6 separate regions of the Homo sapiens genome follow, and regions 2, 3, 4, 5 and 6 are each reported to be linked to region 1. Evidence: microRNA targets listed by miRTarBase, many of them from high-throughput screens and not tested one by one. Region 1 holds a microRNA gene; each other region holds the end of a gene's coding sequence.

Region 1 (4,090 bases):
TTATTAGTCTTAGGGTGTGTGTTTTTCACACCACCACTTCCCGCTACAGACATGTCCAGAGCCTCAGATCAGCTTTTAAGTGGAAAATTCCACACTTCATATCATAGGGACACAGGAAATTTTGTTTCCTACACTATTTATTTTTTTTGAGACGAAGTCTTGCTCTGTCACCCAGGCTGGAGTGTAGTGATCTCAGCTCTCTGCAACCTCTGCCTCCCAGATTCAAGCGATTCTCCTGCCTCAGCCTCCTGAGTAGCTGGGATTACAGGCGCACGCCACCACGCCTGGTTAATTTTTTGTATTTTAGTAGAGAGCAGTTTCACCATGTTGGCCAGGATGCCCACCTCTGCCTCCCAAAGTGCTGGGATTACAGGCATGAACCACTGCTCCTGGCCCACAAAAATATTTTTAATAAAATTACCTTCAGGTTATGTGTATCAGTTGTATATGAAATACAGGTGAATTTCATGTTTAGACTGGAGTCCCATCCCCAAGCTATCTCATGCATATGCAAATACTCCAAAATTTAAAGTTTAAAACACCTGCTCCCAGGCATTCTGGATGATAATCTCTATCGCTATTTTCCCATGAGCCTCCAGTGTTCTTTCCGGTTTTTACTCCCTTTTAAATATTCTGTAAACAGTTCTCTTTAAATAAAATATATGTTTTGCCATGTCATGCGCTCAGAGGAGGGGTCTGGATCCTCTCTTAATGACAGACGGATTTGTCTTACAAAGGCCATTTTCCCGAAAAAAATAGGAAATAACTTGGAGGATACTGGTGGGGGCTATACGTTTGGTGAAATCCATCAGTGATATTCAAGCCAAGCAAATAATCACCCACTAATTTGTGTTTTCCACTTAAAATTCTTGGAGGGGACCATGTTAAATGGGGAGCCCTGGTACAGAAAACAACATGGGCTCATATTCACTCCCTTCCCCATCTCCCTCTTCTGCTTCCCCATGAACCTTCCCCCACAGGCGTTACATAGCCATGTGCCGCGAGAAGCAGCCCATGGTGCCAGAGTCTCTGGCTGACTACATCACAGCAGCATACGTGGAGATGAGGCGAGAGGCTTGGGCTAGTAAGGATGCCACCTATACTTCTGCCCGGACCCTGCTGGCTATCCTGCGCCTTTCCACTGCTCTGGTAAGTGCCCAAATTGCTGGAGGGCCATCTGTTTTGACCCTTAAAGGGGTAGCTCCTTACCGTGCTCTCATTGCCGCCTCCCCACCTCCCGCTCCAGCCCTGCCGGGGCTAAAGTGCTGACAGTGCAGATAGTGGTCCTCTCCGTGCTACCGCACTGTGGGTACTTGCTGCTCCAGCAGGGCACGCACAGCGTCCGTGGAGGGAAAGGCCTTTTCCCCACTTCTTAACCTTCACTGAGAGGGTGGTTGGGGTCTGTTTCACTCCATGTGTCCTAGATCCTGTGCTACAGACCTTCCTTTCTGTCCTCCCGTCTTGGACCTCAGTCCTGGGGGCTCCAAAGTGCTGTTCGTGCAGGTAGTGTGATTACCCAACCTACTGCTGAGCTAGCACTTCCCGAGCCCCCGGGACACGTTCTCTCTGCCAATTGTCTTCTTGGCTGAGCTCCCCAAGCTCCATCTGTCATGCTGGGGAGCCCAGTGGCGTTCAAAAGGGTCTGGTCTCCCTCACAGGACAGCTGAACTCCGGGACTGGCCAGTGTTGAGAGGCGGAGACTTGGGCAATTGCTGGACGCTGCCCTGGGCATTGCACTTGTCTCGGTCTGACAGTGCCGGCCCAACACTGCGGATGCTGGGGGGAGGGGGGATTCCACTCCTGTTTTGTGAGTAGGCGACCCATGGGCTGCCCAGCCTTAAAGCCAGAACAAGGGTGTCCCCTGACCTCGTTCCACTGCCCTCCTCCCGTTCCCATCTTTCCCCCCTACCTTCCCCTTAGGCACGTCTGAGAATGGTGGATGTGGTGGAGAAAGAAGATGTGAATGAAGCCATCAGGCTAATGGAGATGTCAAAGGACTCTCTTCTAGGAGACAAGGGGCAGACAGCTAGGTGAGTGGTTTAGTGAAGGACAAAGCTGTGTCACTTTGTCTTCTGTGGCCATGTGTCTGAGGTTGGCCTCAATTCTAACACTGGCCACCATTGTTCTCTGTTGATGTCGAGCATTCCTGTTTGTATCCTGACCTTACACACCCACTCATTTCCTTCAGGACTCAGAGACCAGCAGATGTGATATTTGCCACCGTCCGTGAACTGGTCTCAGGGGGCCGAAGTGTCCGGTTCTCTGAGGCAGAGCAGCGCTGTGTATCTCGTGGCTTCACACCCGCCCAGTTCCAGGCGGCTCTGGATGAATATGAGGAGCTCAATGTCTGGCAGGTCAATGCTTCCCGGACACGGATCACTTTTGTCTGATTCCAGCCTGCTTGCAACCCTGGGGTCCTCTTGTTCCCTGCTGGCCTGCCCCTTGGGAAGGGGCAGTGATGCCTTTGAGGGGAAGGAGGAGCCCCTCTTTCTCCCATGCTGCACTTACTCCTTTTGCTAATAAAAGTGTTTGTAGATTGTCATCTTCTAGCCTGGGCCTGACTTCCATTAAAACAGGGTTTTGTGCGTTTTTTAGATTCCTGTTCGTTTTTATGCTATTTCATCCACTCAGTAAATTACCTGAGTAAAGTGCATCTCCCTGCCAGGCCCCCAGTATAGACACTGGGGATGCGGCAAGGACTAAGCGGTCCCTGCTGTTTGGAGATACTTAAGATGGGGCTCCACTTTTTGAGCCCCCCGACTCCCTTATTTGGTCTTATACTGCCTGTGTGCAAGTCAGGCTCTGGGGATATGGCGCCAGTATGAAATGCAGGGTCTCTTGGTTTTTCCCCTTTTCTAGCAGACAGGTCATTACTTAGTTCCCAACTCCCACTCTAAAGCTCTGGTTAGCGGGTGATGAAAATCAGCACAAGTGATCACATACAGCAATCCCAACCTTTAGACCACTTCCTAGCTGCCTCTCCAAAATATGTAGTAAACGGTCATTGAGAAACTCTCCCTCCTGGTAATTCACAGTGCCCACAGGATCAAGGCTTGGACTTCTTTCTAATAAAAATCTGCTTACTATCCCTTCTTTTTTGCGTATGTGAAAAACAAGTTAATTTAGCTCAGGAAAGTAGTCAATTATCATGTTTATAAGGTTGGGTGGGCTAGGTAAGATGATGTAGAGGGTGACATTAAAGTGTAGAACAGAGACCACTTAGGTGGAAGCAGGCAGCCTTGGACTTTGCTAAAGACCAGTCCATGTGACTGACATGGGGTCACTTCAAATGGTAGTGCCTCCCTCACTGAAGAGCATCAGAAGGGCTTCTGAGCAAGGCCAGAATGAGCCTCGATGAACATCCAAGTTGACCAACCAGTGTGGTGCCTAACAGAGGACAGAGCCACCAGCAGGGGTGCTCAGGGGCTGCTCCCCTTTTATTAATGACAGCGGTTTCTCTCAAGGAAGTGTAGTGCCCTCCCCTTTGGGATAGTTGCCTGACCCCTGTCCATCAGCCCTTCAAGTACCCTCATCAGAAAAAGAGCCCGCGCATTCTCCTGCCGATGCCTTGTCGGTCGTAGAGGACATTGAACTTGTTCACAAACTGGTTCATGGTGTTGCACGTTTTGGTGATGGTGCCGAGGTAGGCCATGAGCCCCACGTCGTTGCATTGCTGGGAGGGAACAGAAAGGACCAGTTCCTCGGGATCCCTCGTGGCATGCCCGGGGAACAACAGTCCCCAGTCCTGCACGTGAAAGTGACAGCATAAGCCCCGCCTCCCCATCCGGGTTTTACACTCACATCATAAAAATCTGTCTTGAACTTGTCTGTGCTGAGCACCGGGAGACAGTGACACAGAGCATAGGCCTCCCGCAGGATCTCATGATTAAAGGGGACCTCTCCTAAAGGCACAAAAAGAGACTACATTAGTTTGGATGCTGTCACTTCCCCAGGAGGGAGAGGAAGAATGCCAGGGAAGCCCCTGTCCTACCCGCTTCAGAGGCCTTGACGTACTCCAAGATGAGCTTGACGCGGCTGTGCAGCATCTTGATGGCGCTGTGCTGTGCTATCAGGTGTTCAGCCACTGCAA
Region 2 (4,090 bases), not on the chromosome of region 1:
AAAATCCTTTGCACTTCCTACAAGATAAATCCTCACTCCCGTGTTTGGTAATGTCCTCTTTAGGCTGCCCCAACCTGCTGCTGCTCCTGACAAGAGCCACCTTGGGCACATGTTCTCAGGATCTCCTGGGGCTGTGTCAGACTTGTTTCTTATCAGACTTAAATCTATTTTGGCGTAAAACACTTTGATTTCTCTCAGGACTTACTGTCATGTTGTTATTGCTACAAAGAGTCTGTTTTTGTTAGTCTTAAGGTCTCTGTTTTAAGGCAAATGCTGGTCAACTGTGCCTACAGGTCACTCATATTTATCTCAGAATAAATCTCTTAAAATATTTTACCATTTGACTTTTTCCATTGTCATCTGGTTCAGGAAACAAGAAAGTGGTAAAGTGATAAAAAATTATTTAAATAGATCAAGACAGTGATACGATTTACCACAAGTCTAGATATTGTCCATTTTTAAAAACTTACACAAACAAATATGTTTATGATTACAAATGGTAAGATATGACTTCATATCAGTTTTCAAGAGAACACCTCTCCAAGGAAGGGAAATTTACACAGGTTTCTGACTGATTATGTAGGCTTTAGGTAAGTAGAGAAGGTGCCCCCGGCTGATAGAACAGCTAAGGTAAAGGTTTGCAGGCTGAGATGTGGAAAGGCATGTCTGAGGGATGACAAGAGAGCATTTGTGTGCAATGGAGGCTTCTGTCAGGAGCAGCAGGAGGTTGGAGCAGCCTAAAGAGGGCATTATATACCACACACGGGGGGTGAGGATTTATCTTGTAGGCCGTGCAAAGGATTTTTGGAGGGCAGGACACTGGGTTCAAACTGGTAAGTATGGTTAATATGGCAAGGATACATGAGAAGAGGAGACAGATTTTGGACGAAGACCAGTTACAAAATTGTGACAGATGTCTAGGTATAAAGTGATCTGGGTAGGTACAGAAAAGGGCACTGGGAAAAAAGGGAGAGACGGAGCAAGAAAATATTTGCTATTTCTGCTCCTGTAAACCTTGGCTGTCCAGGAATAAATTTCTGTGTGATCTTGACCTCAGCTGTCCAAGTACTTCCAGATCCAGATGCCTCCTGTGCATCCTACCTGCCCTGGCCAACCTTGTGGACTCTTAGACCCAGCCTGTCTGCATGGGCCCACTTTGAGCTGGTTCCCTGAATTCTGGGCTCAACTTCCTCATCTGGACTTTAAATGCTTAAAGTATTTTCCTCAGTATAAGCTAATCCTTATTAGGCAAGTATCCTTTGGTCTACGCCAGCTCCTGGTCTAGGCTTCTCCACCTGAGTTACAGAGCCAACATGGTAGGAACTTTAAAGCAGAGCCTGACAAGGTTCTGAGACCCAGTAAATGTAGGGGTAACTGTTACAGAAAATAAAAAGTGATACCAAAAATGCATAGATGGCTTGAAGTAACAAACAAAACAGGAATACTTGTTTAGCAATGGTTGGTATATGTGTAAATTTGATTTTGAAAAATGATTTTATTGAGGTATATTTACCATAAAATCTGCCCATATAAAGTGAACAATTCAATGATTTTTAGTGAAGTTACCAAATCGTTCAACCATCACCACCATCTAGTTTTAGAACATTTTCGTCACCCTAAAAAGATTCCTTGTAACATTTGCAGTTACTTTGTTTCTGAAGATCTGCCATTTCTGGACATTTCCTAAAATGGTACTAGAAAATACCTGGTCTCTGGCATCTGCCTTCTTTCACTTAGAATCACGTTTTTGAGATCTGGATTGTGCATAATACCCATATTTTAGTTGTTTTTTTTTTTTTTTTCTGAGACGGAGTCTCACTCTGTCTCCCAGGCTGGAGTGCAGTGGCGTGATCTCGGCTGACTGCAAGCTCTGCCTCCCCGATTCACGCCATTCTCCTGTCTCAGCCTTCCAAGTAGCTGGGACTACAGGCGCCCGCCACCATGCCTGGCTAATTTTTTTGTATTTTTAGGAGAGACAGGGTTTCACTGTGTTAGCCAGGATGGTCTCGAACTCCTGACCTCGTGATCTGTCCGCCTCGGCCTCCCAAAGTGCTGAGGTTACAGGCGTGAGCCACCGCGCCCAGCCTATTTTAGTAATTTTAATGTTTAAACAAGGTTTCATTTCATTTCAAAAATTCCAAATCTATTAGCATAAAGATGTAACAAAAATTGCTTTTTGCTCAATCCTAGACCACTCCATTGCCTCACAAAGAAAGGTAACATGTGCTACAGAGAAAGAAGTGCATAGAGGTGTTGTACTGCAAAGATCCAGTCTATTAATCTCCATACTACAGCTGTGAACCACAGGAAAGAGGCCCAGCCCAGTTAGGACTATAGGCCAAGGCATGTCACTTTCTGAACATCAGTTTTATTAGCTCTAAAATACGACTGGGCTAGATCATGGGTAGCTGTCTACCTTTCTCAGCCTCCATCCTCTGCACCCATGCATGACACCCTGCCCCGTCAGTAACAGCATGAGGAGGCAATGCACAAGTGTCGTTATACAAATGGCCCCACCAGGCAGAAAATCACCAGACAAGGTGATTTCTCAGCTTCTTTTCAGCTCTAGTTTTATACATCTCAAGTTGGAAAGGAACTTTCCTCACATTCATCATGTTCCCAAGGTTTCTCTTTGAGATGAATACTGAAGCTTGAACTCTACTAATGGGTTTTCCCAGTTTCACTAAATTTGAAGAGTTGCTCTAGCACAAATTCTCTAATGTACAAATTCTCTAACGTGTTTTGGTGGAACATCCACCAAAGCCCTTCCCACATTCATCACGTCACCAGAGTTTCCAGCTAGTAGGGAGAGTTCTAAGGGGTTTATAAAGCAATGAGGTTTGGCTGAAGGCTCTCCCACATTACCCACATTCACAGGTTTTTCTCAGGTATGAATTTTCTGATGCTTAATAAGGGATGAGCCCTGACTGAAGGCCTTCCTCTATTTCCTGCTTTCATAGGGCCTCTCTCTAGTATGTGTTCTTGATGCTTAGTAAAGGAAGAGATACAACTGAAGATTTTTCCATACTTACCACACTTGTAGGATTTCTCTCCAGTACAAGTTATCTGATTTTCTTAAAGAATCAGTATGTAACTGAAGGCTTGCCACACTCACTGCATTGATAAGGCTCCTCCCCAGTGTCGGCTGTCTGATGCTGAATAATATGCATCCTCTGATCAAAGCGTTCCCACATTCATTACATTCACGTGGTTTCTCACTAGTATGGATTCTCCCATGTTTGGTAAGAGAGGGGAAGCCCACCCCCTCTTGACATTGACAGGGATTCTCTTTAGTAATTATTGCCTGATGTGGAACAAGATGTGGTCTTCCCACATACATTACACCTTTAGGATCTCTCTCTGATATGAATTCTTTAAGTTCCAGTGATGTCTGCACTCCAGCTGAAAGCCCTTCTATATTCACTGAATTTATAGGGTTTTTTTTCCAGCATGACTTCTCTGATGTTTAATAAGGGATGCAGTATGAGCAAAGGCCCTTCCACACTCATTACATTTGTAGGGTTTCTCTCCAGTGTGAAATCTGTAATGTTGAGTGAGAGATGAACTCTGGCTGAAGGCTCTCCCACATTTATTACATTTGTAAGGTTTCTCTCCAGTATGAAATCTGTAATGCACAATGAGTGATGAGCTCTGGCTGAAGGTTCTCCCACATTCCCGGCATTCATAGGGCTTTTCTCCAGTATGAGTCCTCTGATGCTTAATAAGGGATGAAGTGTGACCAAAGGCTCGTCCACATTCATTACATTTGTAGGGTTTCTCTCCAGTGTGAAATCTATAGTGCAGAACAAGAGACGAACTCTGGCTGAAGGCTCTCCCACATTCACTGCATTCATAGGGCTTTTCTCCAGTATGAGTTCTTTGATGTTTAATAAGGGATGAAATATGACCAAAGGCTCTTCCACAGTCACTGCATTCATACGGCTTTTCTCCAGTGTGACATCGCTGATGGCGCCTAAGTTCTGACTGGAAGTGAAAGGACTTCCCACACTCATTACATTTACAAGATTTCTTTTCTGGGTGGGTTCTCTGAGAGTTGTTTCCCCCTAAAGTCTGCCTGAATTCTGTATCA
Region 3 (4,090 bases), not on the chromosome of region 1:
GGAAAATTAGTTGTGTATTTCACGACGAAAGCGACGGACCAAAAGAAATTTCCTGCCCCAAGAAGCATGGGATCCAGGAAGGGGCGCGTAGATGCTTAACGGTCTCTTCGGAAATCCTGCAAATAGAAAGATAATTCTAGATCCGGAATACCTGTATCTGGTGGAAACCATGGATTTCTACAAGCTCGAATTATTCCTCATTGTATAGCCTGCTTTGTAAACTAGTTTACAATTTGCAGGCTGATCTTAAGATTTTTTTATATCTAATTGCTGCTGCCTTCATTTTAGGTTCAGCAGTTACTTTTAACTACCTTAATTTATTGCCAGAAGGTATGAGCCTAACATTCTGATGAGTCCAGAAAACTACGTTTTGTCAGTAGCAATACACTAGGAAGTAAAATATATTTAGAATTTAAACATTGTGTGCCAGTGGTCCTCGCGCTTGACTGCACATCAGTTACTTGAAGAGCCACACCTCAGATCAATGCAGTCAGAACCTGGGAAGTAGGTCCCAGACATCAGGACCTTTTTAAAGCTCCCCAAGTGATTCTACGTTCCCCAAGTTTGAGGACCACTTTTCTGTGCATTGGCTTGCACAATTTGAAAGTAATGCTTTTCCTGAGCTGGATCCCAGTGTTGCCTTAACAGGGTGTCTGTCGTGCCGCAGTAGAGCACTGCTGCTTCCTCCAACCCCAAAATTTATGTTCCTAAGTAAGTCAGGTCCCTAAGCCCCGTCCCAAGAAGTGACACAAGTGGCCAACATCCACACTGTAGGCTTGCAGGCTACCCGCCCTGAGATTTGGTAAAGAACACTGCCTTGTTCCCCATCAGTAAACAAGGTTACCTACCTCAGGAGGCTGCTTGTGAGAGAGCAAATGCAGTATCTTCAGAATGATTTATTTTTTTAATTAATTGTAAAGACTTGTGCCATTGGCTGCTCTTTCTAGTCCCCTAAATTTCTGTTCTAGTTTTAAATTTCTCTAGAACTTGCAATAGTTGGGGGTTTTATAATGATGTTTTACAATGTTTATTTCTTAAATAAAAACTTAAAAATTCAACATTTCTCAGCTGGTGGCTCACACCTGTAATCCCAGCATTTTGGGAGGCCAAGGCGGGAGGATCACTTGAGGCCAGGAGTTCAAGACCAGCCTGGGCAACACAGTTAAACCCCATCGCCACAGAAAATCTTCAAAAAATTTGCCAGATATGGTGGCACACAACTGTGATCCCAGCTACTTGGGGTGGGGCTGAGGTGGGAAGATCACTTGAGCCCAGGAGGTTGAGGCTGCAGTGAACTGTGATCACACCACTGCACCACAGCCTAGGCAACAGCGAGACCTTGTCTCAAAAATTTTTTCTCAAATCAAACATCATTGAAAATCTACTTTTTATAAGCTTCAAATCACAACATCTAGTATGTATGCTGACAGTGATGTTTTTAAATGCCATATATATTTAATAAGTATAATGTAGAGGTTTATTGTTTAAATGAATTCACTCTCAAAATGTGATCTGTCAAGTCCAGTAGAGCTTCAAGGTAAAATGAAAATTTTTAAATGTGATCTGGTTATCTGCTTACTGAGATACTATGTTTCTAAAGTTAAAGCCCAAAATAATGAAAATTTTTCCACTAGAATCTCAGGGAAAAAAAGTCTAATCTTGATATGGGTTTGGTCTCTGGATCCGGTTTTAGCTTCATGAAATTTGATTACAGTTTCTCTCTCTTTAAGCTATACCAGTTGGGGGTGAGTGAAGAAATACCCATAACCTAAAGCAATCTTGAGCCTCCTAATAGCATGTTTATGGTGGAGCGCTGATTAAATAAGCTGTAATTTCAAAGTTAAAAAAAAAATAGTCTCTAGATTCTAACACTGAAAAGCAGTGTATATGGCTGACATTTTCTCACTCCACAGAAATCAATTAGCTTTTGCTGTTTTTTACATTCATAGAGAACCAGTTAAATTTTCATATCCTGTTAAACTATATCAGTATGCCTTTTCTAAGCAACCATTGAAACTTCCAGCACCAGCGGCCAGGTACTGTGGCTCAGATCTGCAATCCCAGCACTTTGGGAGGCCACAGCAGGTGGACCGCTTGAGCCCAGGAGTTTGAAACCAGCATAGACAAAGTGGTGAAACTCCATCTCTACAAAAAACACACACACAAAAAATTAGCTGGGCATGGTGGCATATGCCTGTAGTCCTAGCTACTAGGGAGGCTGAGGCAGGGTCAAAGCTGAAGTGAGCCGTGATTGCACCACTGCACTCCTGGCTGGGTGACAGAGCAAGACTCTGTCAAAAAAGGAAAAGAAAAAAAGAAACTTCCAGCACCACTAAATTTGCCAAATAAATTTGACTGATGCCAAAACTGAAGCTGCCAATGTAATGAAATGTTAAGGTGGCCATAGGACAGTCCTTTTAATAAAAGCTTCCATGTAAAACCAAAATAAAGGTCAGTATAGAAAGTATCATGGGGTATATAACAAACTGAATTTTTGGCTTCCAATCCAAACTGGGCTAAATGGTATGTTTATTTTAAACAAGGAATTTGCCATGGACAAGATCTATCTGGCTTACTGTGAGTTAGAAGTACGCCCTGCCGTAACACTGGTATTTCCACATAGTATGGAAGAGGAAGAGAGGAAAACTTAATTAAGTGTTGCAAAATTGTTTGAGGACCTATTTTGGTCCATTCCTTATCAACTCCATGTGTGATTTCAAGTTATCTAAAGGGCATGTGACTTTATTTCTGACTAACATCAAGTTCCTCTCCTCATCATAACAAGGCGATTCAAACCTAAACTGTGATTCTTAGGAGATGCTTCCAAGGGGAAGCTCCCTCGTTGGACATCCAGAAGATTGCATTTTCTCTTCAGAGTACAATTTTCCATCTGTCAGAGCATGTCTGAATAAAAATTTGAACCTACTACAAACTACATTAGAATAATTTTCAAGTATTTTTCTGTCACAAAAATGGTGTGACAGAATGTGTTGAAAAACACAAAGTTCACAGCTGAGATTAATTTAGATAACCTAGTGGTTAATATGCTCATGAACATCAGCAACAACCGTGCATTCCTTGGCAGATGGGATGCGATGGAAACCAAAGGTTTCCTTAAGGCAAGCACTTCACAACTAGTTTTCTGTCAATTCTTGCGTAAATCACATTCTGTATTCATACAAAAACTTTGTTTTTCTCTGACAAACTGTACACATAGAAACAAATTTCCAAATGGACAGGAACTTAAATTTGTGGAGATGCCCCATGTCTTGTGAGACTTAAAAAAAAGAAAAAGATCCCAGCTTTTATCTTCACAAAACAACATGGGAGTTGGGGCAATGAGGGTGGACAGGACAGGGCCAGCCAGGCTGGTAGCTGGCAGCAGTCTCTTCATCTTGAAGACCTCATTGAGGGTTCCTGGGATTCAGGTGCCCAGAAAAGAGTTCAGGGCTACAATGGTGCAGGCTTCCTTTTGTTTCTCTTGGTGAGTCCACAAGAAGTTCTTACATACTGTCCAGAGAGGCCTCAGGGTACTCAGTTCCAGCTTCTACCGACCCCTTCCACCACCCCGTGAAGCTCCTCGCCTCGGCGGGCCAGAGTTCATGTTACTCCCTCTACCCCAGTTACTGCCACTCCGGCCCCCTCGAGAAGGGGTGCCACTGCCTGGAGGGCCCCCAAAAGGTTCATCTCTGTGGTATCCATCGTGGTGCTCTCCGTCTAAGGAGCTGGAACGCCCAGATTTGGGCACTCTCTGAGCAGGTCCTGGGCCCCCTCGGCCTGAAACAAAGAAAATTTCACATGGGACTTTTTGTATTAGCAACTGTTTGTCAGTAACTCCCAGTACAAACTTTACTCTCTGATGACAATGGACCAGTTCTGGTGGGTGCCAGGGAGACTGGCAGTGGTATTCAGCGTACTGAGAGGTGTGCCTCTACCCTTTCCTGACCCTGCCTCCCCCTTCCTGGCTCATGGCCATGGGCCTCAGCATCAGCCAGATCCATGCCCCCAGGGCTGTGTGACAGACGACAGGAAGCCAAGAGATGAGCAAGGAGCACCTTCAGGGAGACCCGGGCCACACTGGGCCATGTCC
Region 4 (4,090 bases), not on the chromosome of region 1:
AGATTTTGTAACACTTAATTTGAGCAGCTTTTTTATTACATTGAATTATACAAAGTGCATGTTACCTTAGAAAAATTAATATTTGCTGCTTTACTCTTTTGCAAAACATTTGCTGTAATGAATGGATTTGTATTTCCAATATGTATCTTGACTGCATTTTGTAATATTTACTGCTTTATTCCTAATTCTGCTTTAAAGTACTGAACTGGGCATGAAACATTAAAATATTAATCCAGAAACTGTATAAACTGGATGTTGCTTAAAATCTGTATCACTGCCATGTTGAAAACTCAGACTGCTTTTGTGATGTTTCAAATGAATAAAACTATCCTCCCCTCGTTATCCACTTGTGTCAAGGTAGCTATAAAAGTACAGCAAACGCTCTAAAGCAACTGACAGCAGCTGACTCACTTTTGACTATTAGGGTTCAAGATAAAAGGGGACATTTTTAACCAACATATAAAACCTAGTGGGAAATTTTGCCGTGCTGTCATCAGAAATACAGCCCCAGTCTCCTGCTATAAAAATTGAAAAACAATATAAAAACCCATATAATTTCTGAAAGACAATCTTGTAAAACACGCACTCAAACATCAGAATTAAATCATTTTATTTTTGCCACAAGAAGCTCTAAGAACTAATATCAGGCCATGGTTAATGAAAAGTAGAACTTAAAGTCATGACAGGGAAGATTGTACAAGTGTGAACATTACAGTACTCGGAGGAATGAACAAGGTTTCATATAGTTGACCAGCCAGAAAGCCAGTGCTGTTAAGTTAGCATTTAATTCTTTAGAATATGCATGCCTTGACAATACAAAATACCTTGATCAGTGTTTACCATTTTTTTATCTTTTTGGTACAATGGGGGAAAAATGCGGCATTATTTCTTCATAGTGGTTGTGTGTGGGGGATCGTTACCACCAAAATCATAATAATCATTTAAAGTATATTTTAAAGTTAGTCTCGCAAGATTGTTATGGCATTTTTAAATTTCTGTAGTTTAAGCATTTTCATTTTGTCATATCTTTTAACAAATTACTATTTCAAGTAGTTCCTATCCAGAATATTTACAGGTAATTTAGCATAGGAGCAAATTTGAAGCTAACTTCAAACAAGAAAAGGAAGTTCAATAGCCAGAGAGCTAAGTATAAGATAAAAAAACAATATGGTAATTTTAAACAGCATCTTGCTACAGATTTCCAATCCAATAAATACCAGGAATGAAGGACTTTTGCCCCAAAGAAGTATTTCACATGAATTCTGAACTTTGGATATGGAAACTTATAGAAAAACTGAAGACCCTGAGACACATGCAAGTAAGAGTCTTCTGGCAAAAATACAATTTAATTTTCCAGTTTCTCTCCTCCCAAAAACTCCAGAAGATACCTTTAGTAGGCACAGAGTTTAAATGTCATATTCAGAATTTACAGAGCACAGCAGCAGCAGCAAATAATTACATACCTATTATTCAGAATGGATAGTTTTCCATTATAGAATTAGTTCCTGGTTTGTCATAATAGACTTGTAGAATCTGCCAAGTTTTATTATGACAAACTAATTGACCTAGCAGTTGAGTCTGAAAGATCTGGAAGCTCTGCCGGCATCCGTATCATTCACATCGGTAGAAGTAATTATGTCTAACTGGTGAAATAGCATTAATGAAACTCAAAACAAATTTTCACTGAGTACATTTCAGAGTGCACACTATAGTCAAAGAGTAATGTTATTAATATCTACACAAAAAAGAAACATATGGTGATTCCAGAGATCACAGAGTCTTAAGTTATCAGGTAATTTCAAATTTCCCAGGGGTTAGTTTACAAATGGTTTGAAGGTCTAGACTTACAGAACAGAAAACAGATAAATGCACATCACTCTACCTCTTGGCAAGCAAAGGATTTTTTTTCTTGTATTATTGCATGAACTGATGCCTGATACCCTCAGCTACCAACTTAAGAAACACTGAAACCACTACCTTCAAATCCAGCTTACCATCAGAAGAACGATGTATACATGAGAAATTATGATTAAAGCTTTAAGTTCAAAGTCAAGAAATAGACTATATTTTAAAATACATGGTCAGGAGAAAGAAAATATCTATGTTGGACTAAGAAATACTTAAGCAAGGTTACAAATGACTAATAACTATGCACAACAATCTTTTCCAGTATCAATTTTTTCCTTTGCAAAAAAAAAAAAAATCATTTACAGACGTTCAACAATTCTGTTATAAATGCTAGGCTATATGTATGTTCCAACCTGTTTTCTTTTAGTACTAGCACAGTTTAGTACTAGCACTTCAGTAAGTGTTAACTTTATTTTCTAAGTGTTTAAATATGTGTCATTTTTAAAAGTGGTATTTATTGTTGTCAAGAAAAATGGGAACTGACAAGCCTATATAACATTCCTTATGTAGTTTCTGATTACTATAATATTGCAGCAATTTGCAGATGGAATAAAACTTATTTTAGAAGGGGTAAAAACCTAACAAATCTTGCCGAAAGGAAAATACTAGATCACTGATTCAACTATTTCAAATAAAGACTTCCTAGTGGAGATTCTACGCAATATGAACATTTAAAAATATATGCCAGTAGCCTCCCACCCAAAATATGTAAAGTCTCACCCATGGAATCTATCATTTACAAGGATTTATACATAAAGATACATTTGGTGGCTTTCAGATTCAAAATTTGAAAATTTTCATGTTCATGGGAATATTTTTAACCTTAAGAAGCCAAAAGGAAATCTTCATTCCATTCTCTACTATGTGGTAGCCAGAGAATTAAAAATCCATGCAACAGAACTTTTCATCTCCTCCTATCTGCCATTACAGAGATTGTTTTCATTAGTTTTTTGCCCCCAGAGACCACACTGCGAAGGTATAAAGTGGTCTAGCCACCAAAGTCTTTTACAGACTATGGCAATGAAAGCCAGGATTAATTCTAATTAGCTAAATCTAATTTGTTCTTCAGATGAGAGACTTGTCTGCATGGCTATTTTCATAGAGGGAGGGTAGCAGGAGGTTGCTGTTCGCTTGGACTAGCAGATTACACAACCCAAGTACTGACTTATTCTGACATTTTCCAGAACAACTCTAAAACTTATTTACTCTTTATGCCATATACAAGACAAAACACACATTTATTGTCTCAATGTTAAGAAAATTGAGAATTCAGCAGTAAAGTGCTAACATGGAAGGGGAAAGCTGTAAGATGTACTAGGGTATGCTAATAACTCCAGTTATTTTCAAAGAACATTCAGACTGCTTCAAATTCTATTCAGGAAACTATCTCTCCAAGCTTTTAATTTTTGCCTCTTTTAAATGAGCTGAAAACTAACTATATAAACAGATACTTGGGGAGGGGGTCTCACCTCTACTCAAAACTTTCAGGAAAATTTGCTTCTAAAAATTATCAACAAAAATCCCACTACACTTCCTTCAGATAATGTGGCAGATCAAATTAACTTGTTCGCACCTTAATTTGTTTTACAGATCTTCTGAAACCCCTGCCCCATCATCCAAAACAAAACTTTCTAGTATTTCAAAGGAGTTTAGTAAGACTCTGGTATTATAAATTCAAACTCAGTACTGCCATCTGTTACATTTTGTTTAAAAATTGAATCATTTTCCTGCTGAATAAAAATATCTTCCCAGGTCATTGGCTTGTTCTGAGTAGATGTAGTGGTCCCTACTGGAGGTTCTTTTCCAGTGTCAACCTTATACCCAATACCATCATCCTTCATTGCAGGAATAGTGCTTGATCTATCGGAAAGATATGCATATTGTCTGATTTGTAAAGACCTGCATGGATGTAAACGATAAAGCTTTGAGTCCCCAGAAGGATCTTGACTATGAACTGACTTTATATGTGAAGACATAAACTGATAGTTGATGAAAGATTTGCCACAGGCCAAACACTGATACCTTCGCTCCCCTGTGTGATGAATTTCATGCTTTGTGCGATATTCTGCAAGAGGAAATACCTTCTCACAGTAACGGCACGGATACTTCTTCTCCCAAGAATGAATGTTAAAATGTCTCCGCAAGCTTGTCAGACAGACATATGACCTTTTGCATACAATAC
Region 5 (4,088 bases), not on the chromosome of region 1:
ATGGTATTCAAAAAATTGCATTCCAGATGAAGCTAAGTACACCTTTACACCCCATCTGCAGTCCGATTCCCTTTTTCTCCCAGCCTTTAGGTAACATTTCCAGTGAATTTAGTCTACATTCTTTTAGTCTTATTTATTGTACCTAGATTTATGAAAAATATGTAGTGCTGTTTTGTAAATTTACTTATATGGTATATTGCATATATGCAGCTTGCTTTCTACTAGGCATTTTTACTGATTTATCTATGTTGATATATGTTTAGTAGTCTGTTTTTGACTGCTGTACAGTATTCCATCAAACAACCTTTTTTTTTTTTTTGGAGACAGGGTCTCATGGTCACACAGGCTGGAGGGCAGTGGTGTGATCATGGCTCACTGCAGCCTCAACCTCCGTGGCTCAAGCAATCCTCCCACTGCAGACTCCCCAATAACTGCGACTACAGGTGTGTGGCACCACACCCAGCTAATTTTTTTAATTTTTTGTAGAGACGAGGTCTCACTATGTTGCCCAGGCTGGTCTTAAACTCCTGAGCTCAGGTGATCCTCCTGCCTCAGCCTCCCCAAGTGCTGGGATTACAGGTGTGAGCCACTGCTCCTGGCCATGAATCAGCCATAGATAAATTAGACATTTCCCCTAGTGATAAATTGCTAAGTCATTACTTTTTTCCATTATAACCATGCCATACTGAAGATCTTTATACATGTCTAATGGTGTGACCATTTCTTCAGGGCATATACCTATAAGTGAATTGGAGCTAATACACTTTTCATATTGTTAGGTATTGACAGTGGCTGTACCAACTCCCACATTAGTGGAGTAGTTTGTGAGAATTTGTTTCCCACATCTTTTCAACATTTGCTGTTAGATTTCCTAATTGTTGCTAGTCTGATGGGGGATAGTAGTACCTTGTTTTGATTTGCATTTTCCTGACGTTTACCATTTTTTCAGTTTATTGGTTATTCAGGTGTTTTCATCTGTGACTTCTTATGTTCTTTCCTATTTTTCTCTTGGGTTTTTAAAGAAATATCCAGTATCGCTTATATACATGAATACTAGTCTGTATTTAACGCCTTAGATGACACTTAGAAACCTAGCCTGCTTTTCCCTTGAGTTTACTATTTTAGTCAGCACTCCCATACTCTAGTGCTAACCAATCAAAAACATTTTAGTTTAGCCTGTTATTTTCTCTGTATATTAATTCATGCTGTTTCAAGATAAATCTGATTTTCTTGGGCTGAATTTATCATGAAACTGACTCTAACAGCCATTGGTTTATTCATTTTCCAAATATTTATTATTGAAGTACAGCATTAAATGGCCTACTTATTCATAGCAGGAATCCTGCTAAGTAAAGTATTTGGACACTTGGGCACTAAGAAATCTGAATTTTAGATAATAGGACTCTGACTCGGTGAGCACTGTTACTTTAATTATCTGAATAGAAAGTTTGAGATTTAAAAAATAATTTTCTCTCCATTATTTAGGTTGGTCACAGCAGATGTAGCTTTTTACACTGGAAATCTTCAAGCCTTAAAAGGCCTTAAAGATTTGGACCTAAATATGGCCGAAATTTGGGAGCAGAAGAGGTGATGTCATCCTGGAAAACTGGGTAGTTCATCTGACCATGGGATGTGTTTGTTATGAAGAAAATCTGGATGCCTGTGATTCGAGAATTGAACCTGAAACCCAAAGTGAACTGGGGTGGGGGAAGGGAAAAAGGAAAGTATCAAGTGTTGGGAAACTGGATTCAGTGGGATCTACAAGGAATGTCATTTTTGTGCATCCTACAGTGAGGAGTAACTGATCAGGTGTCTATAACATTTTTCATTCTCTCTGGAAACAGACTCAGGTTTCTTTGGACCAAATCCAAAAGAACACATAGCTGTAACACAGCTGTAGTTGACTAGAATGCTCTGTATACTTTATATTAAAAAATGCTTTGCATTTCTTCCAGTGCAATGAAATTCATATGGTGTCCCACCTTATTTAATGATGGTACAATTTAAAATCTTAGTCAACTTCTGTAGAAAGTTTTCTCTATGAAAGTAAAGCTGTTTGAAAAATTATTATTTTTTTACAGATCTTTCTATAAAAAATAAACATCTTTTGATTGCTTGGATTTAGGAATTCAATTTTTGTTTCAGTGACCAATGTCAAGTTGCAGGCTTTGTGTGTTGCATATTTAATATTTCTACTACCACCGTATGTCAACTGGGTAAAGCCTTCCAGAGCTCTCTAAATACCTGAAAGACTTAAGCCTTTTTTTAAGTAATTAATACTTAAAAAAAAAGATCCTGGCATCTATTTATGCAACTAAATACTTTTCAGAAATGGTATATAAAAGGCTACAGTTTAATATCTGTATTTTTATAAAAGTATGATGAAGGGTTTGGGGTGTTTTTATTTGTAGCAGAGGTAAGAATATGTATTCATATAATCTGCCTACTTTTGAGTTCTCATATTAACATTTAGATAACATATGAAGTATGGCCCCCTTGGATCCTTGTTTTTAAGTTACTTTCGATGTGTATACGAACAAAGACCAGGGAGAAACAGAACTTTTAAAACTATAGGCTGCTGTGTTGGGGCCAGAAATAAGGTGACAAGTAAAGACTTTTATAATACCTACCTTCAAAATTAGAATCAGCAGCACTGTACAAATAAAGTGCCTGTGCTTCACCTCACACCAAGAATCTTGCCTAACCCTGTCAGAGTGCCTAATATCCTGTGGTGATTATGTATAATGAAACAGTCTTATTTTGTGCTCTTTGGTTTCTTAAAAGGAAAGCTTGTTTTCTTTCCTTTATCATTACAGAGGTATGTCTTTGGTTCTTAAACTATCTGTCTAAAATAAAGCTGTAAAAAATTAACAGACTTTAAAAGGCAACTTTTTTTTAAGTGGTATATTGTGAACTTTAAACAAGCAGCCTACTCAAAACAAGTATGGATGAATTTAAAGAAAAGGCATAAATTGAACTACCAGCAGACCTGAATGGAAAGATTATTAATGATCATTTTTTCAGTGATAATAAACAAGCTTCAGGAAATGAAGCTTCAGGGAAAGGGAACTTTTTATGAAGCTATACCCCCTACCTCACTATAGAAGAGTACAAGGATGTGAAGAAATGCCTTCCCTTTGCCCACCCCCGTCAGCTGGGAAAATAAATGCCACTTTGTTTCAATAAATGGAGAGTTTGTGGAAAGCATGGCAGGCATCCCAGTTTTAGAACTAGATGAAAGGTAGGTACTAAAGAAAATACCTTCAGTTTAATTCCTGTGGAAATAATGGTATGATTAAGATTCTTAGAAATGCCAAAAACTGGACTCATTAAGTACACACTGGCTAGGTAACTAGCCAGTGTGTACTTAAAGGGCAAATCTTCCAACTAATATAGTAACTGTCTAACAACAATAAACCAGTTTATAGTTAGCATTATAAAGTACCAGTGTACACAAGTATTGCTTCACTGCTTTATTTTTGAAATCACAAGCAATTCAAAGTGATCATCATTGAGGCTTCTGTTAAAAGTTCTTCCAAAGTTGCCCAGTTTTAAGATTAAACAATATTGCACTTTAAGATGAACTAACTTTTGGGATTCTCTTCAAAGAAGGAAAGTATTGCTCCATCTGTGCTTTTCTTAGACTAAAAGCATACTGCAGAAAACTCTATTTTAAAAATCAACACTGCAGGGTACAGTAACATAGTAAAGTACCTGCCTATTTTAGAATCCTAGAGAACATTTCATTGTAAGAAACTAGCCCATTATTTAAGTGTCCACAGTATTTTTCATTTCAGTGGTCCAAGATGCGAAGGTTTCCAGACACAATCTTGTTCTCTAATACTGCTCCAGGTGGGATATCAATTCTGTCACCATGATTTGCAATGATGATAACCGTTCCCTAAGTGACAGGGAAAACAAAAGAGTGTACTTGCAACTGAAATGCAATTTGATTATCTTACAGTGATCAAGTTTATGTACAACTTTTTTTTTTTTACAGTGAAGTAACTTTTTTTATAAACAATATTAAACATGAAAAACAAATAACAGTTAAGGAAAATTGTAATGTGTCCTTCTGTAACAATCCT
Region 6 (4,090 bases), not on the chromosome of region 1:
CCAATTCCATGGGCATTATGCAAAACAAATTACAACATTTGGATTGTTTTTGAGTTTTGAAAAGCCTGATATTGACAAAAACTAGAGTTCACCACCTTTAAGGCACATGAGGCTATACAGAGTAAGCCACAAACAAAAAGTCTCTGCTGGAGAACCCAGAAACAAACAAGACTTCTATATTGGTTGTGTACTAATATTTCTGGCTAAAATATGAAGACATTTGCTATATTTTATAATTTTTAAAGCTCATCAGAATCTGGATACCGCTATAGTTTCCTATAATTTTTCCTTTATGAGAGGATTTAGCACTTTTAAAAGCTAAATAAAATGAGAAGTTCACCCAATCTATAATGAGTCATTATTTTATAGGTCAGTTTCTGAGATTAATTCACCAATATCTAATTCACTCAAGGGACAGAGGAACTGGACAAAACTGCCATAGCCTAACAAAAATGAGGTAAGTCTCATGAAAAAAAAGTGTTATTTTATTCTAAGTTCTTGTTGGGAGAGAATGAACTAGCCCTTTATACCTCACTACACATTATAATACATCACCTTCCTTTAATTCAGTTGCAAAACTATAGAAAAATATTATATATGTCATTTTGTTAAATGCAAGTCTCATCCTTTAGAAAGCTGTAGTAGGAACTGAGATACTACTATAAGATCTCTAATAAAATGTTTCTGGATAAATCTGTGGGAAATGTATTACGCCCTCAGTTAACAAGGCTTATTTTCAAAGGGGAGACTTAAAATTTGCTCCAATGTCAGTTCTCTACAGATGAGAACCAATACTACAGCAAGTAAGTCTTGCCTTTTTATTAATTAATTGGTTAGTTAGGATTTGTATTTAAAAATAAATATTACTGAGTTGGATTGTTTTAAATTGAACTCAGAGATACACCATATTGAATAAATTATTACTTATTCCAAGAAAGAAATAGTTCAAACTTTGAATTATCTACACAAGACATTAAAACGGAAAAAATGTACAGCACATGAACAGACACCAAAGAGCTTTTTATGTCTTTCTCTGCTAGTTTCTTTTTTGGGGGGACAGAGGACTATCTAATCTCCCTCTTCAATCACAAGCAAGCCCAAGTTAGTTAATTATTTTCTTTTAATCAAAGGAAATATTTTCAATCTCCTTCAACCCAACTTTATGGACTATCTCTAATTTATAGTACTATAATGACAGTTCATCTGGATTTACACAAAATTTCATGATGCACTTCTATAAACATTCAAACCTTTACAAACGTTAAAAATCAACTTTGTGGCACTTTGGTAAACTTGCTTAATAGTGACTCAAGTTAAATTGAAAGTAATAAGACTATGTGATTATTGGGAGAGTAGGGGAATTGGTCTTAAATTATATCATGACCTTGTTTAGGGTTTTTTACTGATGACCGTTAAGTAAATAGTTTCCAAGTATTTGACAGATAAATGGTGCTCTATGGTCTCCAAAAGTGGCCTGTTTTCCTTGAAGAATAGGTAAAGACAGCAGGCAATCATTCTGTGGGATTTTGCTTTTGCTAAGAGCAGGTAGAGAATTTAGATACAGTTACTATGCTCTATTTGCTCTTCCTATACTTGGAAGGGAAAACAGTGAGGTTAAGTTGTTCCACCTCCACAGAGTATTCTGGTGTCTATCCCTAAGCTCTCTTTGGGTCCTCTAAGCTGGTTAGGAGAACCAAAGAGGGGAAGGGGGAAAGTAAGAAAGACTACTCCAATTGAAAACCATAGACACATATGTTTTATTTTAGTAAAAATTTCAAATTATGACTTTAGTAGTCTTTAAAAGGTTACAACCATATCACAGACCTTGGCAAAGCTGCAGTGTATTAATTTTTATCCCCAGTTTCCATTCTTTAACCTTCAAGGAACGAAAATGAAATCAAAATTTTAAAACACATGATTATAAGCCTTTGTATCAACTGAGAATTAAGAATTTAAGTCATGAATCTTTTTCTTAATAAGCTACTTGACGTAACAAAAAGTAAAAAAAAAAGAAATCTTACTAACCTCTGTACTCTTAGAGTTTGAAAAATATTGATTACAGCTCTTCCTACAGAATCACGGTCACCTTCAAAATGCTATCCACAATATAAAGAAAATTATGAAAGTCAGAAAGCAGCTTGATTGTCAGTAGTATCAGTTTCCATCTTCTTTAACCCATGTGAATGTTCAAGACATGTGGTAGAAGAAAAGGAATAATGCTATTTCTAATGTTCATGATAACAAACACTCTAGGAAAACATTTAAAGAAACTCCATGATTTCACAGTTAAAATTAGAGCTCTATTAATAACCAACAAGCTAAGGTGTTTTCTATATCTCATTGCTCTGTATATTTCTAGCAATTTATAGAGAAGTTTAGCAGATCTACAAGGGTTTTCATCAGTTAATTTTCAACATTAACTAGGTCACATGCCAGAAGCTGTTATACCAAATATTTAAAAATTAGAGCTGTGCTGAAAAAAAAATGACCTACAATAAGAACTTGAGAGAGATATAGACTGACTTCCTGCCTGAGACAATTTTACAGCCTAAAAATTCTGAAAGCAACAGAAAAGCAGAATTGCTTATTTTGCCTAATTACTTTCACCATTTAAATATTAATCAACATAGCATCAAGTCTAAAATTCAGCTACTAGTAACATTATTTCATCAGTAGTCATCACTTAAAAAAGGATTCTGAACTTACATAAAGTAAAAAACAAAAATAAATCTAATAGGAAAAAGATAAGGGCCTGTTCTAATACCTTTGAGTCAATAATGAATGAAAACAGACAGAACTAAAACTAATGAAGGCACTATCGTAAACAGCAATCCACACCTTGCCCACCCCCACACCTCAGAAAAGATTTCCACCAGGAATCAAGAATTATGCTATGGCCCTTTAGGAAAAGTAAACTAAGAAATTGTAACATTAAGAAGGGAACTAAATTATGATCTCTACACATGTATGTATACTGACATAATAAACTACTGTCAGCAGTACCTTGAAATCTTCTAAACTGTGTAAGTACTAGTCTTTGAAGACGCCCACTTCACCGCCATAAACTTTAAACAGTCAAAACGTTTACCCAAAGTAGTGGTTCTTAAACTAGACTGTGCATCAGAATAACCCAGCACTTGTTAAAAAAACAATGCTAGGCGCCTCCCTGTTGGTTTCTGATTCACTATGTCTGGGGGCGGGGCCCACTAGTATGCATTCCTAACAACTTCTCAAGTGATGCTGAAGCTGCAGGTCTTGGGATCACCTGCCAAGAACCACTGGCTTAAATTATTAATGGTACATCAGCACAGCCCTAACCAAAATTTTGGTCAAGATGCATGTAAACCCATAAGGATGGAGTATTTTAATGCTCACAAAGAACGTTGATAAATTCACCCTTATTACATCAAAACATCAACATCTGCTTCATGGTCTTCCTCAGTCACTTTCAAGGACAGCACCTCTTCGTTAAGGAAGAGCCCACTGAGCCTCTCCTTCCGGGCCTGCCTCTGCTCCTTCAGCTGCCTCTTGCGGAAGGCCTTCTGCTGTAACTTCCGCTGCTTGGATCGCTTCTGTCAAAATAAAAATTTCTAAATCAGTTTGGTTTAGTTTTTGGCATATCCACCCCAAAATGTTTTGTGGATCAAATTCTCTATTTTCTAACTTTAAGAGCTGTTCAAATCCTTCTGTAGTATGATCCTTGTTCCAATAAGTGAGCCACTGGCTTAGGCTTAAAAATGATTAAGATTCCAATTTTGTGGTATTTGACCAGTGACTCTTCTGATTAGGAAGAGTTGAGACGATCATTTTGGCTAGTGATAGATAAAAAGTCACTTCAAAGACTTCTTTTTTAAATTCCATTAAGGTACATTGGTACAAATGCATAATGAACACATAATTAATACTAGGCGACAATACTGAATACACCTGTGGAGAACATTGCCCAAATCTCTAATACTTATGATTCTCAGGTGCCTTTCATCCAAAAACACTAGCAATCTTACAATGGCAGGTAAAAAAAAAATCATGCCTTTTTTGTAGTAGGCGAATACCATCTTAAAAATCCATCAGAAACTCAGTGGATACTCCC

Evidence for each region. The annotated mature microRNA hsa-miR-106b-5p reads UAAAGUGCUGACAGUGCAGAU and lies in region 1 at 1,259-1,279, shown strand. An mRNA with a match to its seed (bases 2 to 7 or 8) in the 3' UTR can be bound and repressed. Matches are read on the target gene's strand: a 7mer-m8 pairs with bases 2 to 8, a 7mer-A1 pairs with bases 2 to 7 and ends in A, and an 8mer does both.
Region 2: the mRNA of ZNF514 is a reported target of hsa-miR-106b-5p. Seed matches in the 3' UTR shown: 7mer-m8 at 2,047-2,053, 7mer-A1 at 1,531-1,537, 7mer-A1 at 925-931 and 7mer-A1 at 385-391.
Region 3: miRTarBase lists WDR33 as a target of hsa-miR-106b-5p. The part of its 3' UTR that is shown has no 7-base or 8-base seed match.
Region 4: miRTarBase lists ZBTB33 as a target of hsa-miR-106b-5p. Seed matches in the 3' UTR shown: 8mer at 3,185-3,192 and 7mer-A1 at 2,888-2,894.
Region 5: the mRNA of UGP2 is a reported target of hsa-miR-106b-5p. The part of its 3' UTR that is shown has no 7-base or 8-base seed match.
Region 6: the mRNA of FAM199X is a reported target of hsa-miR-106b-5p. The part of its 3' UTR that is shown has no 7-base or 8-base seed match.

The regions. Positions count from the first base shown.
Region 1 is chr7:100,091,232-100,095,321 of GRCh38, reverse strand. It overlaps MIR106B (microRNA 106b), which reads left to right and starts at 1,248; the gene lies at 1,248-1,329. It overlaps COPS6 (COP9 signalosome subunit 6), which reads right to left. Exons shown (of 10, transcript NM_006833.5): 8 at 3,992-4,084; 9 at 3,802-3,902; 10 at 3,135-3,673. The coding sequence ends at 3,533. It overlaps MCM7 (minichromosome maintenance complex component 7), which reads left to right. Exons shown (of 15, transcript NM_005916.5): 13 at 981-1,149; 14 at 1,921-2,030; 15 at 2,189-2,594. The coding sequence ends at 2,390. MIR25 (microRNA 25) reads left to right here and starts at 1,679; the gene lies at 1,679-1,762. It also overlaps MIR93. RefSeq lists an enhancer at 3,602-3,896.
Region 2 is chr2:95,145,853-95,149,942 of GRCh38, forward strand. ZNF514 (zinc finger protein 514) reads right to left here. Exons shown (of 5, transcript NM_032788.3): 5 at 1-4,090. The coding sequence ends at 3,430. Among named protein-coding and RNA genes, the nearest start is that of ZNF514, 12 kb to the right of the region's middle.
Region 3 is chr2:127,702,776-127,706,865 of GRCh38, forward strand. WDR33 (WD repeat domain 33) reads right to left here. Exons shown (of 22, transcript NM_018383.5): 22 at 1-3,777. The coding sequence ends at 3,548. It overlaps SFT2D3 (SFT2 domain containing 3), which reads left to right. Exons shown (of 1, transcript NM_032740.4): 1 at 1-2,467. Among named protein-coding and RNA genes, the nearest start is that of SFT2D3, 3.3 kb to the left of the region's middle.
Region 4 is chrX:120,254,902-120,258,991 of GRCh38, reverse strand. ZBTB33 (zinc finger and BTB domain containing 33) reads right to left here. Exons shown (of 3, transcript NM_001184742.2): 3 at 594-4,090. The coding sequence ends at 3,558. TMEM255A (transmembrane protein 255A) reads left to right here. Exons shown (of 9, transcript NM_001104544.3): 9 at 1-342. Among named protein-coding and RNA genes, the nearest start is that of ZBTB33, 6.1 kb to the right of the region's middle.
Region 5 is chr2:63,890,933-63,895,020 of GRCh38, reverse strand. UGP2 (UDP-glucose pyrophosphorylase 2) reads right to left here. Exons shown (of 10, transcript NM_006759.4): 10 at 3,461-3,901. The coding sequence ends at 3,794. It overlaps VPS54 (VPS54 subunit of GARP complex), which reads left to right. Exons shown (of 23, transcript NM_016516.3): 23 at 1,486-2,871. The coding sequence ends at 1,591. Among named protein-coding and RNA genes, the nearest start is that of UGP2, 51 kb to the right of the region's middle.
Region 6 is chrX:104,189,090-104,193,179 of GRCh38, reverse strand. It overlaps FAM199X (family with sequence similarity 199, X-linked), which reads right to left. Exons shown (of 6, transcript NM_207318.4): 6 at 1-3,572. The coding sequence ends at 3,402. Among named protein-coding and RNA genes, the nearest start is that of FAM199X, 25 kb to the right of the region's middle.